Regions from separate parts of the Homo sapiens genome. Here region 1 is linked to region 2. Evidence: fine-mapped QTL for protein levels in blood plasma. Region 2 holds a variant in brackets. A gene starts in the other region. All regions are shown on their forward strands. Region 1 holds the start of APLP1 (amyloid beta precursor like protein 1). Region 2 overlaps SRGN (serglycin).

What was found. A credible set is the group of variants that fine-mapping cannot tell apart. PIP is the posterior inclusion probability: the model's chance that the variant is causal. Protein levels are from antibody-based Olink assays in UK Biobank. Linkage for the fine-mapping came from a reference panel and not from the study's own genotypes, which makes the PIPs less certain.
Region 1: it holds the start of APLP1, and the variant in region 2 is the best candidate, but not a certain one, in a credible set for the plasma level of the APLP1 protein (UK Biobank, PIP 0.56).

What each region holds. Positions count from the first base shown.
Region 1 is chr19:35,866,502-35,869,985 of GRCh38, forward strand. APLP1 (amyloid beta precursor like protein 1) reads left to right here and starts at 2,073. Exons shown (of 17, transcript NM_001024807.3): 1 at 2,073-2,282; 2 at 3,166-3,309. The coding sequence starts at 2,136. It overlaps KIRREL2 (kirre like nephrin family adhesion molecule 2), which reads left to right. Exons shown (of 15, transcript NM_199180.4): 15 at 1-635. It overlaps LOC107985317 (a long non-coding RNA gene), which reads right to left and starts at 2,856. Exons shown (of 4, transcript XR_001753932.2): 1 at 2,591-2,856; 2 at 1,374-1,629; 3 at 1-92. RefSeq lists silencers at 1,894-2,153, 2,244-2,313.
Region 2 is chr10:69,096,488-69,104,960 of GRCh38, forward strand. It overlaps SRGN (serglycin), which reads left to right. Exons shown (of 3, transcript NM_002727.4): 2 at 597-744; 3 at 7,384-8,318. The coding sequence ends at 7,633. Among named protein-coding and RNA genes, the nearest start is that of SRGN, 13 kb to the left of the region's middle. The variant A/C (reference allele first, on the strand shown) is at 4,999.

The DNA of each region.
Region 1 (3,484 bases), not on the chromosome of region 2:
AATGGAAGAGTCCTGGGATCTCCAACTTGCCATAATGGATTGTTCTGATTTCTGAGGAGCCAGGACAAGTTGGCGACCTTACTCCTCCAAAACTGAACACAAGGGGAGGGAAAGATCATTACATTTGTCAGGAGCATTTGTATACAGTCAGCTCAGCCAAAGGAGATGCCCCAAGTGGGAGCAACATGGCCACCCAATATGCCCACCTATTCCCCGGTGTAAAAGAGATTCAAGATGGCAGGTAGGCCCTTTGAGGAGAGATGGGGACAGGGCAGTGGGTGTTGGGAGTTTGGGGCCGGGATGGAAGTTGTTTCTAGCCACTGAAAGAAGATATTTCAAGATGACCATCTGCATTGAGAGGAAAGGTAGCATAGGATAGATGAAGATGAAGAGCATACCAGGCCCCACCCTGGCTCTCCCTGAGGGGAACTTTGCTCGGCCAATGGAAATGCAGCCAAGATGGCCATATACTCCCTAGGAACCCAAGATGGCCACCATCTTGATTTTACTTTCCTTAAAGACTCAGAAAGACTTGGACCCAAGGAGTGGGGATACAGTGAGAATTACCACTGTTGGGGCAAAATATTGGGATAAAAATATTTATGTTTAATAATAAAAAAAAGTCAAAGAGGCAAGTGTGTCTTAGGGAGTCTACTGGCATTATCACTCTCCACCAAGGAAGGGGTCCCTTAGACCTGTCCCAAGGTCCCTCCTCTACCCTAGCCTATGAGGTGGCTGTAGGAGTAAAACTGTGAGCCACCTCTCAGCCTCTTGCTACCTGCAAAGCACTCTAGGCTCTTTTTTTTTTTTTCTTGAGACAAGATCTGGCTCTATGGCCCACATTGGAGTGCAGTGGCATGATCTCAGCCCACTGCTACCTCTGCATCCTGGGCTCAAGCCATCCTTCCACCTCAGCCTCCCAAGTAGCTGGGACTACAGGTGCATGCCACCACACCCAGCTAATTTTTGTATTTGTTTGTAGACAGGGTTTCACCATGTTGGCCAGGCTGGTCTCAAACTCCTGACCTCAAGTGATCCGCCCACCTAGGCCTCCCAATGTGCTGGGATTACAGGCATGAGCCACTGTGCCCAGCCATGGGCTCTTTTAATATACATCTTCACACACACACACACACACACACACACGCACACACACACATGAGTTGCAAACAGAAAAGACACACACATAGGCATGTATGCACAGACACACGCATAGATGTCCACACAGTTGCACACAAGTGACAGGGCTGCCCCAGGGGTCCTGGGGAAGACTGAATTCTAACTCTCATTAGAGGAGACAAACAAGTGAGCCCTGAAGTGGAGCAGGGAAGGGGAGACTATGGGTAGGAAAATGGCAATCCCCTGGTCCTTACAGCAAGCGTGGAGATCCAGACCCTAATCCTGAGGTGCTGCATCCACAGTGGGCATGGTGCTGGTGCCTGCTTGGATGATCCTTAAAGAAAGGTCCTGGGGGCTTTGGTTCATGGATCCTTGAGCTAGGAGTTAAAGGTCCAGGCCCCTGGGACCCTTGGGAAGCAGAGCAAGAAGAGTGAACTCCTGGGTCTGAAGGAGAATGGGCTGGGGGCTTGGTCTCTGGTCCTGAGAGAGAAGGTGCCCAGACTTCTGGATCTGAAAGAGGAAGGGACTAGGTCTCAACTGCTGCCTTCTTGACTGGGGACATTTTGGAGGCCTGTATTCCTGAGCCCTCAACAGAGGAATGTACTAGGGGATGGGGGTCTCTGATGCTTGCATCCTTGGAAAAGGACAAAACTGTGAGTGTCTGGGTCTAAAGAGGGTGAGAGTCCTGCGGGAGGACTCAAAATCCACAACGGGCGGAGCCCATAGCCGGACTCCTGGCTGGGCCCTTCATGGGGCGGGACGCCTGGAATCTCGAGGGGCGGGGGCCTGGCGCAGGCTCCCGCCCGGGGTTCCCGAGCTGCTCCACTCTGCGCGAAGCCGCCACGCTATTGTCCTGACCAGGAAGGCGGGGCCGGCGCGGGGCGGGGCTGGCGGCGCCGGCGCAGCCCGGGGGCGGCGGGAGGAGGAGGTGGCGGCGGTGGCGCTGGGAGCTCCTGTCACCGCTGGGGCCGGGCCGGGCGGGAGTGCAGGGGACGTGAGGGCGCAAGGGCCGGGACATGGGGCCCGCCAGCCCCGCTGCTCGCGGTCTAAGTCGCCGCCCGGGCCAGCCGCCGCTGCCGCTGCTGCTGCCACTATTGCTGCTGCTTCTGCGCGCGCAGCCCGCCATCGGGAGCCTGGCCGGTGGGAGCCCCGGCGCGGCCGAGGTGAGGCCGGGCCGGGTCCTGGGGGATGGGGGAAGGGGCGGGACCGGGTCTCTGGACGCCGGCGCGGACATGTCCAGGGCAGAAAGCGCGGTCTTTCCAGCCAGGTGGTCAGCCCCCAGGCGCCCCCAATCACATTTATGAACCCAGGGTTCCAGGCCCCAGCTCCCCCATCATGCGACGTCCCAGCCCCCTCCCATCTCGAGCATAGGAACTGGTCTATTCAGAGCCCCTGGTCCCAGAAGTCCAGCCCCCTCTCCAGACCCAGGTGACTCGGCCCCAACCCCCTCCCGCCTGGACATAGGACCCACCAAGCAGCGAGGCATTTAGATCCAATAATCCAGACCCCTTGTATTCTCTGGACCCATATGGAGGCCCTTGCAGCCTCCCAGGACCCAGGAGTCCAGTCCTTCAGTCACCACCCACCCCAACCAGATGTAGCTCTCCAGTCCTCAAGGACCTGGTGTCCAGGACTGTAGGCCCCTGAAGCCAGGCCTTGTCAGCTTTGCATCCTGCAACGGGAGCCTGAGCAAGGGATGGAGGGAGGAGGGGCCAGAACTCCTGGGTTCTGGCCTCCTCCTCCGCGATTCAGGTTTAACCCCTTCGGGCTCCAGAGCGGCTGCGCTGGGGTGGGGGCGGAGTCTGTCTCCGCGGCAACAAGGCAGAAAGAATCCCGGGGGACCCAGGTCGCCATAGCAACGGGAGCGCTGGGGCGCCCCCGCCCTACGGGAGCTGTTTCCCAGGGAACGGTGCCTCCATGGAGGCGGTGTGCGGTGCTTGGGGGAGGGGGCTGGTGCTGGGGGTCTCGGTCCTAGGGAGCAAAGAACCAGGGGACCCTCATGCCAACGCCCCCCGAGCCCTCACTGTCCTTTCCACTTCCATCCAGGCCCCGGGGTCGGCCCAGGTGGCTGGACTATGCGGGCGCCTAACCCTTCACCGGGACCTGCGCACCGGCCGCTGGGAACCAGACCCACAGCGCTCTCGACGCTGTCTCCGGGACCCGCAGCGCGTGCTGGAGTACTGCAGACAGGTGGGCGGGGCCGAACGGGAGAGGCGGGGCCGCCCATAGAAAGCTAGACTTGAAAAAGGCGTGGTCCAGGGTGCTGCGCGATCTAAGGCGTGGAGGCTGGGGGGCGTGGCCAATAAAGAGGCGCAACTATGCTAGGGGCAGGGGACCTGTTTTGAGATACTAAGTCAGGAAAAGG
Region 2 (8,473 bases):
CAGACCTGGGACTTCACTCCAGGCAGCTGATTCCAAAGCCTATTCTAACTTTAAACTGCTACTTTTTGGAGTGTTGTAAGAAGGACAATTTATATAAAATGTTGGCACATAGTGGGTGCTGCTGTTATATGAATGGGCACAAAATCTGTCTACATTTTGCCTTTTACCAAATTTAGAATCTATTTAGTTAAAACCTTCTTAGGGCGGGTGGGGTGCAGTTGCTCATTCCTGTAATCTCAGCACACTGGGAGGCCAAGGCAGGAGGACTGCTTGAGCCCAGGTGTTTGAGACCAGCCTGGGCACATAGTGAGACCCCCATCTCTCCAAAAAACAAACAAACAAACAAAAACAAAACAAAACTAGCTGGGCGTTGTGGTGCCCCTGTATTCCCAGCTACTCAAGAGGCTGGGGTGGGAGAATGGCTTGAGCCCAGGAGTTCAAGGTTGCAGTGAGCTATGATCACAGTACTGCACTCCAGCTTGGGCAGCCGACTGAGACCCTGTCTCGAAAAAAAAATAAAAATAAAAACTTCTTAGGACAGAGTGATTAGAAGCTGTGTAGTAGATACTTAGTAACAATGTGGGTTCCTCGGGCAGGTTATCCTACGCGGAGAGCCAGGTACCAATGGGTGCGCTGCAATCCAGACAGTAATTCTGCAAACTGCCTTGAAGAAAAAGGACCAATGTTCGAACTACTTCCAGGTGAATCCAACAAGATCCCCCGTCTGAGGACTGACCTTTTTCCGTAAGTGGACTTTTCTCTAATTAATTAATTAATTACTTATTTATTTGAGACGGAGTTTCACTTTTCTTGCCCAGGCTGGAGTGCAATGGCGCAATCTTAGCTCACTGCAACCTCCGCCTCCTGGGTTCAAGCGATTCTCCTGCTTCAGCCTCTGGAGCAGCTGGGATTTCAGGCGCCTGCCACCATGCCCAGCTAATTTTTTTTTTTTTTTTTGAGACGGAGTCTCAGTCTGTCGCTCAGGCTGGAGTGCAGTGGCGCAATCTCGGCTCACTGCAAGCTCCACCTCCTGGGTTCACGCCATTCTCCCGCCTCAGCCTCCCGAGTAGCTGGGACTACAGGCACCCGCCACCACGCCCGGCTAATTTTTTTGTATTTTTAGTAGAGACGGGGTTTCACCTTATTAGCCAGGATGGTCTCGATCTCCTGACCTAGTGATCCGCCCGCCTTGACCTCCCAAAATGCTGGGATTACAGGCGTGAGCCACTGCGCCTGGCCTAATTTTTTGTATTATTAGTAGAGACGGGCTTTCATCATCTTGGCCAGGCTGGTCTCAAACTCCTGACCTCAGGTGATCCACCCACCTTGGCCTCCCAAAGTGTTGGGATTACAAGCATGAGCCACTGTACCCGGCCTTTTCTCTAATTTTAAAGTGTCTGTAATTTCACAACCTCTTGGCACAGATGTGGGAGTGTTTTTCTTCAAGCTGTCCAGAGTGTTTTGCTTCGAGCTCTTGCTTTGGTAGTTTGGCTCTTACTCTGCAGTACATGGTAAAAGTGTACTGTATATACTGGCATATGACATGTGCGAGTATACATGATTCACCTATGTTTTTGAAATTTTTTTTGTGGATGGTAGAGAGGAGCATTGAGGACTTTTCATCAACAGGTATTGAAAATGATTGAACATTGTTTTATTTGTGTAAACAGAACACACTATATATAAAAATCCAATAATTAACTGAATGGATAAGCAAAATGTGGTATAAGCATACAAAGGAATATTATTGGGTCATAAAAAGAATGAAGTACTGATACATGCTACAACATAGATAAACCTTGGAAACATTATGCAGAGTGAAGGAAGGCCAGACACCAAAAGCCACATATTGTATGATTCCATTTAGATGAAATGTCCAGAATAGGCAAATCCCTAGAGGCAGAAAGTAGATTAGTGGGTTACAGGGGCTGGGGAAAGGGAGGAATAAGGAGTGACTGCTAATGGGTATGAGGGTTTTTTTTGGAGGAGGTGATTAAAATGTTCTTCTGCCAGGTGTGGTGGCTCATGCCTGTAATCCCAGCACTTTGGGAGGCCGAGGCGGGAGGATTGTTTGAGCCCAGGAGTTTGAGGCCAGCCTGGGCAACATAGTGAGACCCTATCTCTATTTCAAATACATTTTTTATATTAAAAAAATGTTCTTCAAGTAGTTGGTAATTATTTTTAAAAATGGCCAGGTGCAGAGGCTCATGCCTGTAATCCCAGCACCTTGGGAGGCTGAGGTGGGAGGATCCCTTGAGCCCAGGAGGTTTGGGACCAGCCTGGGCCATACAGCAAGACCCTGTCTCTACAAAAAATACAAAAATTAGCTAGGCATAGTGATGTGCACCTGTGGTCCCAGCTACTCGGGAGGCTGAGGTAGGAGAATCTCTTGAGCCTATGTTGAGCCTGCAGTGAACCCTATTTATGCCATTGCACTCCAGCCTAGGCAACAGAGTAAGACTCTGTCTCAAAAAAAGAAAAAAAAAATTAGGGAAAGGAAGAATAATTAGCCAAGACTTGTAAAACAAAAATCAAATCTCTTCTTTTGATCACATAAAACTTGCTTTAAACTTGCAAAAAAGACCTGATATAAATTCATAAGTAACAAAAAATTGAATTATATTAGAAACCATTAATTCAATGAATACTAAAGCTATGTAGGATGTAGCAAAATATACATATTAAGAAAAGGATTATCATAAAAGTTTTAATCTCCAGGCTCAAACCTAGAAAATCACTCTCCTCAAAGCCAGGGTTAATCATCATGCTCCAAACCAGGTACATTTCACATCACTTTGGGATCCTGGCAACTTTCTCTTTTGTTTTTTTTTTTTTTTGAGACAGGGTCTCCTCTGTCACCCAGGATGGAGTGCAGTGGTGTGATCATAGCTCACTGCAGCCTCGAACTCCTCAAGTGATCTTCCTGCCTCAGCCTCCCAAGTAGCGGGACCACAGGCACACAGCACCATGCCCATCTAATTAAAAAAATTTTTTTTTGTAGAGACAGGGGTCTCTGTACATTTCCCAGGCTGGTCATGTACTCCTAAACTCAAGCAGTCCTCCCACCTCAGCCTCCCAAAGTGCCGGAATTACAGTCATGAGCCACCATTCCCAGCGCTGGTGACTTTCTCCATCACTGGTGACTTTCTCCATCACTGGTATTCACTGCATTAGTGATGACATCATTACAATCTTCAATATGCAACTTTGTAGTCCTACTCTTGCATTCTTACTTTAAAGCCTCAGCATTAAGTTTGAATGTAATATTACAGCATCCTTCATTACTTTAAATCATTGGTTTCAATAGTAATTCATTTAAATCTAAAATGTTAGGCTGCAGTGGCTCATGCCTGTAATCCCCCCAGTTTGGGAGACTGAGGTGGGAGAATCACTTGAGGCCAAGAATTTGAGACCAGCCTGGGCAACACGGCAAGACCCCATCTCTAAAAATTAGTGGCCCGGCGCTGTGCCTCACGCCTGTAATCCCAACACTTTGGGAGGCCGAGGCGGATAGCTTGAGGTCAGGAGTTCAAGATCAGCCTGGCCAACATGGCGGAAACCCATTTCTACTAAAAATACAAAAATTAGCTGGGCATGGTGGCACGCCTGTAATCCCAGCTATTGAGAGGCCGAGGCAGGCAGACTGGGAGGCCAAGGCAGGCAGATTGCTTTGAGACCTGCCTGGGTAACATGGAGAAATCCTGTCTCTACAGAAAAATACAAAAATTAGCCAAGCATGGAGAAACCTCGTCTCTATAGAAAGACACAAAAACTAGCCATGCATGCCTGTGGTCCAGCTACTCGAAAGGCTGAGGTGGGAGGATTGCTTGATCCTGAGAGGTCAAGGCTGAAGTGAGCCATGGTGTGGCACTGCACTCCAGCCAGGGTGACAGACTAAAACCTTGTCTCAAAATAAATAAACACATTTAAAATAAATAAATACAATTAAAACTAAAATTAAAAAATAAAATAAAATGTTAAGAGAATAGCTCAAATTCTCCAAAAGAACTCTTGCACACCATTCCTCCTCTTCTCAAATCTCTATTTTCCTTCCCCAAAGCCAGTAACTGCTTCTCACCCTGACCCTGTGCTTTCTTTCCCGTCATTGCGAAAGAATGGTCCTTGCTTCTGTGCTGATCCCAAACCCTTTTGCCCTCAGATCCTCCTGTCCTTCCCTGGCCCTGCTCTGTATTGGCTGTGGGGTGGGGGTGGCGGTGGAACTGACCCCTGGCGTCTGCATTTCTCAGGCTCCCAGGGCTGTGGCTGACTTTGGCCAATGGGAGGCAAGGACGGGAGACTGAGAGCTTGGGAGGAAGGGAGAGAGGTATGTTTCTTCTCCTTACTCCCTGCCTGGGATGGCACCTTGGGCAGGACTCTGTTTTGCCCATGGCCTCAGCTCCCACCAGATGCCTCTAGTCCCTGGGCTCAGGAAATAGACAACCTCCTTCCACTATCGCTGTAGCCCAAGGAGGGAAGTATTTTTTTCTTTCTTTCTTTCTTTTTTTTTTTTTTTTTACAGAGTCTCACTCTTGTTGCCCAGGCTGGAGTGCAGTGGTGCGATCTCAGCTCACTGCCACCTCTGCCTCCCGGGTTCAAGTGATTCTCCTGCCTCAGCCTCCAGGGTGTGCCACTATGCCCAGCTAATTTTTGTATTTTTGGTAGAGACGGGGTTTTGCCATGTTGACCAGGCTGGTCTTGAACTTCTGACCCCAAATGATCTGCCTGCCTCGTCCTCCCAAAGTGCTGGGATTACAGGCATGAGCCACTGTGCCTGGCCGAAGGAAATATTTTCTTGCTATTGCTAATCTCTGGGTTACCTCGCTATCCCCCATTTAGCTTCACTTCTCCTCCATCACCTGTATGAGGAATTCCCTCTGTGTTAAATATCTGGAGAAGTTTCCTGATTGGACCCTGGCTGTTGCAGCTTCCAAGGCCACCTCTCTTTGTGGCTGGTATCCTTTTCCCATGCATCTTCTCCAGGACTTCCATTCTGCAGTT[A/C]TCTCTCTGAACTCAGTGTCTTCTTCCCATCAGTATAGGGGTGGACTTTAGTATCTCCTATGTTTAGGCAACATCTCTCCTTTGACTCTGCGTCTTCTCCAGTGGTTGCCCTTCTCTGCTCCTCTTCACAATAACACCTCCTGAAAGGGCCACCCATGCCTGCCCCCTCCTTTCCTCACCCCCTCTGTGGCTGGACTTCTGTTCCTACACTCCACCCTGGTTGACAAAGTCACTGATTACTTCTCTATTTTCAGCTTACTTGATCCTTAATTGCCTTCAAAAACAGCTAACTGGGCCATGCATGTAATCCCAGCACTTCGGGAGGCCAAGGCAGGAGGATCACTTGAGCCCAGGAGTTCAGGACCAGCCTGCCTGGGCAACATAGTGAGACCCTATCTACAAAAAATAGAAAAATTAGCCGGGCGTTGTGACTCATGCTTGTGGTCCCAGCTACAAAGGAAGCTGAGGTGGGAGGATGGCTTGAGTCCGGGAGGGTGAGGCTGCAGTGAGCCATGATCACGCCACTGCACTCCAGCCTGCACAACAGAAGGAGGCCCTTTCTGTAAAAAAAAAAATGGTTGACCACTCCTTCCTTGAAATGCTTTTTTCTTGAGGCTTCCATGCCCTGCCTTATCCTGTTTCTTCCTACTTCTCTGGTTGTGCTTTTTCCTCTGCTCAGTATTTAACATGTTGGTGTGACCCTGGCTCTGGCCTGGGCCCCCTTCTCTATCTACATGCTTTCTCTCGACGACCTCCATCGGTTGCATGGGTTTAACTACCAAATCTGTGATTCTAGCTCCGACACCCCAGGCTAAAGTAGCCACCTGGTCACTCCCTATTACATTGGTCAATTTCATTTCTCTGTGCCACCTATGATTTTCCTGATTTATTTATTCACTTTTCATTGTCTGTCTTCCCCACTAAAATAAAAACTTCTTGAGAAGGGGCTTCATCGATCTGCCTCTGTTCTATCCCAGGCCCTCAAAACAAGGACCAGATATTCAACAAATATTTATTGAATGCGTACATGAATTAAAACTCTAATTGGTTGTATGCTGGTGGTTTATTATTTTCATGGAGGAAATGACTTGTAGGCTGTGACACTCAGCTTTTGTCTCTGATGCTTTGTTGCCCTGTTCTGTCACCGAGGGCTGTCGTCATTGCTCTGGCCATTTTGTGCTCTTTGAATTTCTAATCATCACACTCAACCCAGAAGGCAGCCTTACCTTTCAGCACTCTTCAGCTGAATGAGTGCAAGTTGGAGGCAGGGTCATTTTTTGATAGGAAATTGAATGTTTATATGCTGGTAAATATAAAGCTTAGCTTTTTACAAAGAATTTCTCAAAAGTGAGCTTTGTTGAAGCCCTGTAAATTGTTAGAACTTTTATGGAAATTTTAATTTAGGAAAAAATGTCATCTGTTTGGGCTGACTTAGTTGTTAGTTGTTTGTCCTTTCTTTTTTTTGGTGGAGGGTATGGAGTTTTGCTCTTGTAACCCAGGCTGGAGTGCAGTGGCGCGATCTCGGCTCACTGCAACCTCCGCCTCCTGGGTTCAAGCGATTCTCTCACCTCAGCCTTCCGAGTAGCTGGGATTACAGGCATGCACCACCACACTTGGCTAATTTTTGTATTTTAAGTAGAGACCGGGTTTCACTATGTTGGTCAGGCTGGTTTCGAACTCCTGACCTCAAGTGATCACCCACCTTGGCCTCCCAAAGTGCTTGGATTACAGACATGAGCCACCACACCCGGCCAAGAGGACTTCTTTTAAAAATGATTTCTTGGGCCGGGTGCAGTGGCTCACACCTGTAATCCCAGCACTTTGGGAGGTGGGTGGTTCACAAGGTCAGGAGTTTGAGATCAGCCTGGCCAATATGGTGAAACTCCATCTCTACTAAAAATACAAAAATTAGCCAGGCATGGTGGCGCACCCCTGTTGTCCCAGCTACTCGGGAGGCTGAGGCAGGAGAATCACTTGAACCTGGGAGGTGGAGGTTGCAGTGAGCCGAGATGGCACCACTGCACTCCAGCCTGGGCAACAGAGCAAGACTCTGCCTCCAAAAATAAAAATTAAAATGATTTCTTAAGTAAATTTCAAATATAGAATGTATATGCTAGTGATAACAAAATTAACACTGTTTATGCAAGTCTGCAATAGGTAGATGTGAAGTTGATAGGTGCAATAAGTATAGGCAAACACATAGGAACATTTGACCTGTTTTTTTGTTGATTTTAAAACATTGAATAATTGGGAAGCTTTTAAATCTCTTAATTTGAGCAACTAGATGGCTGTATTTATCTCCTTATATTAAAAAAACTATTATAATTATCTTTCCCACATATCAAACTCCACTGGTTTTTTTCCCATTTTTCTTTCATACTTCAGAAAGACGAGAATCCAGGACTTGAATCGTATCTTCCCACTTTCTGAGGACTACTCTGGATCAGGCTTCGGCTCCGGCTCCGGCTCTGGATCAGGATCTGGGAGTGGCTTCCTAACGGAAATGGAACAGGATTACCAACTAGTAGACGAAAGTGATGCTTTCCATGACAACCTTAGGTCTCTTGACAGGAATCTGCCCTCAGACAGCCAGGACTTGGGTCAACATGGATTAGAAGAGGATTTTATGTTATAAAAGAGGATTTTCCCACCTTGACACCAGGCAATGTAGTTAGCATATTTTATGTACCATGGTTATATGATTAATCTTGGGACAAAGAATTTTATAGAAATTTTTAAACATCTGAAAAAGAAGCTTAAGTTTTATCATCCTTTTTTTTCTCATGAATTCTTAAAGGATTATGCTTTAATGCTGTTATCTATTTTATTGTTCTTGAAAATACCTGCATTTTTTGGTATCATGTTCAACCAACATCATTATGAAATTAATTAGATTCCCATGGCCATAAAATGGCTTTAAAGAATATATATATATTTTTAAAGTAGCTTGAGAAGCAAATTGGCAGGTAATATTTCATACCTAAATTAAGACTCTGACTTGGATTGTGAATTATAATGATATGCCCCTTTTCTTATAAAAACAAAAAAAAAAATAATGAAACACAGTGAATTTGTAGAGTGGGGGTATTTGACATATTTTACAGGGTGGAGTGTACTATATACTATTACCTTTGAATGTGTTTGCAGAGCTAGTGGATGTGTTTGTCTACAAGTATGATTGCTGTTACATAACACCCCAAATTAACTCCCAAATTAAAACACAGTTGTGCTGTCAATACCTCATACTGCTTTACCTTTTTTTCCTGGATATCTGTGTATTTTCAAATGTTACTATATATTAAAGCAGAAATATAACCAAAGGTTAAGCTGTCTCGGATCTGTTGTTCTAAACCCAGGAAACAGTTATTTTTGGCCAGACGTTTCTCCAGAAGTCTTATCAACAAAACAACTTTAAACGTATTCTACAGTAAACACAAGTTTTGTAACCAGAATCAAATCATACTAACTAGCAAAT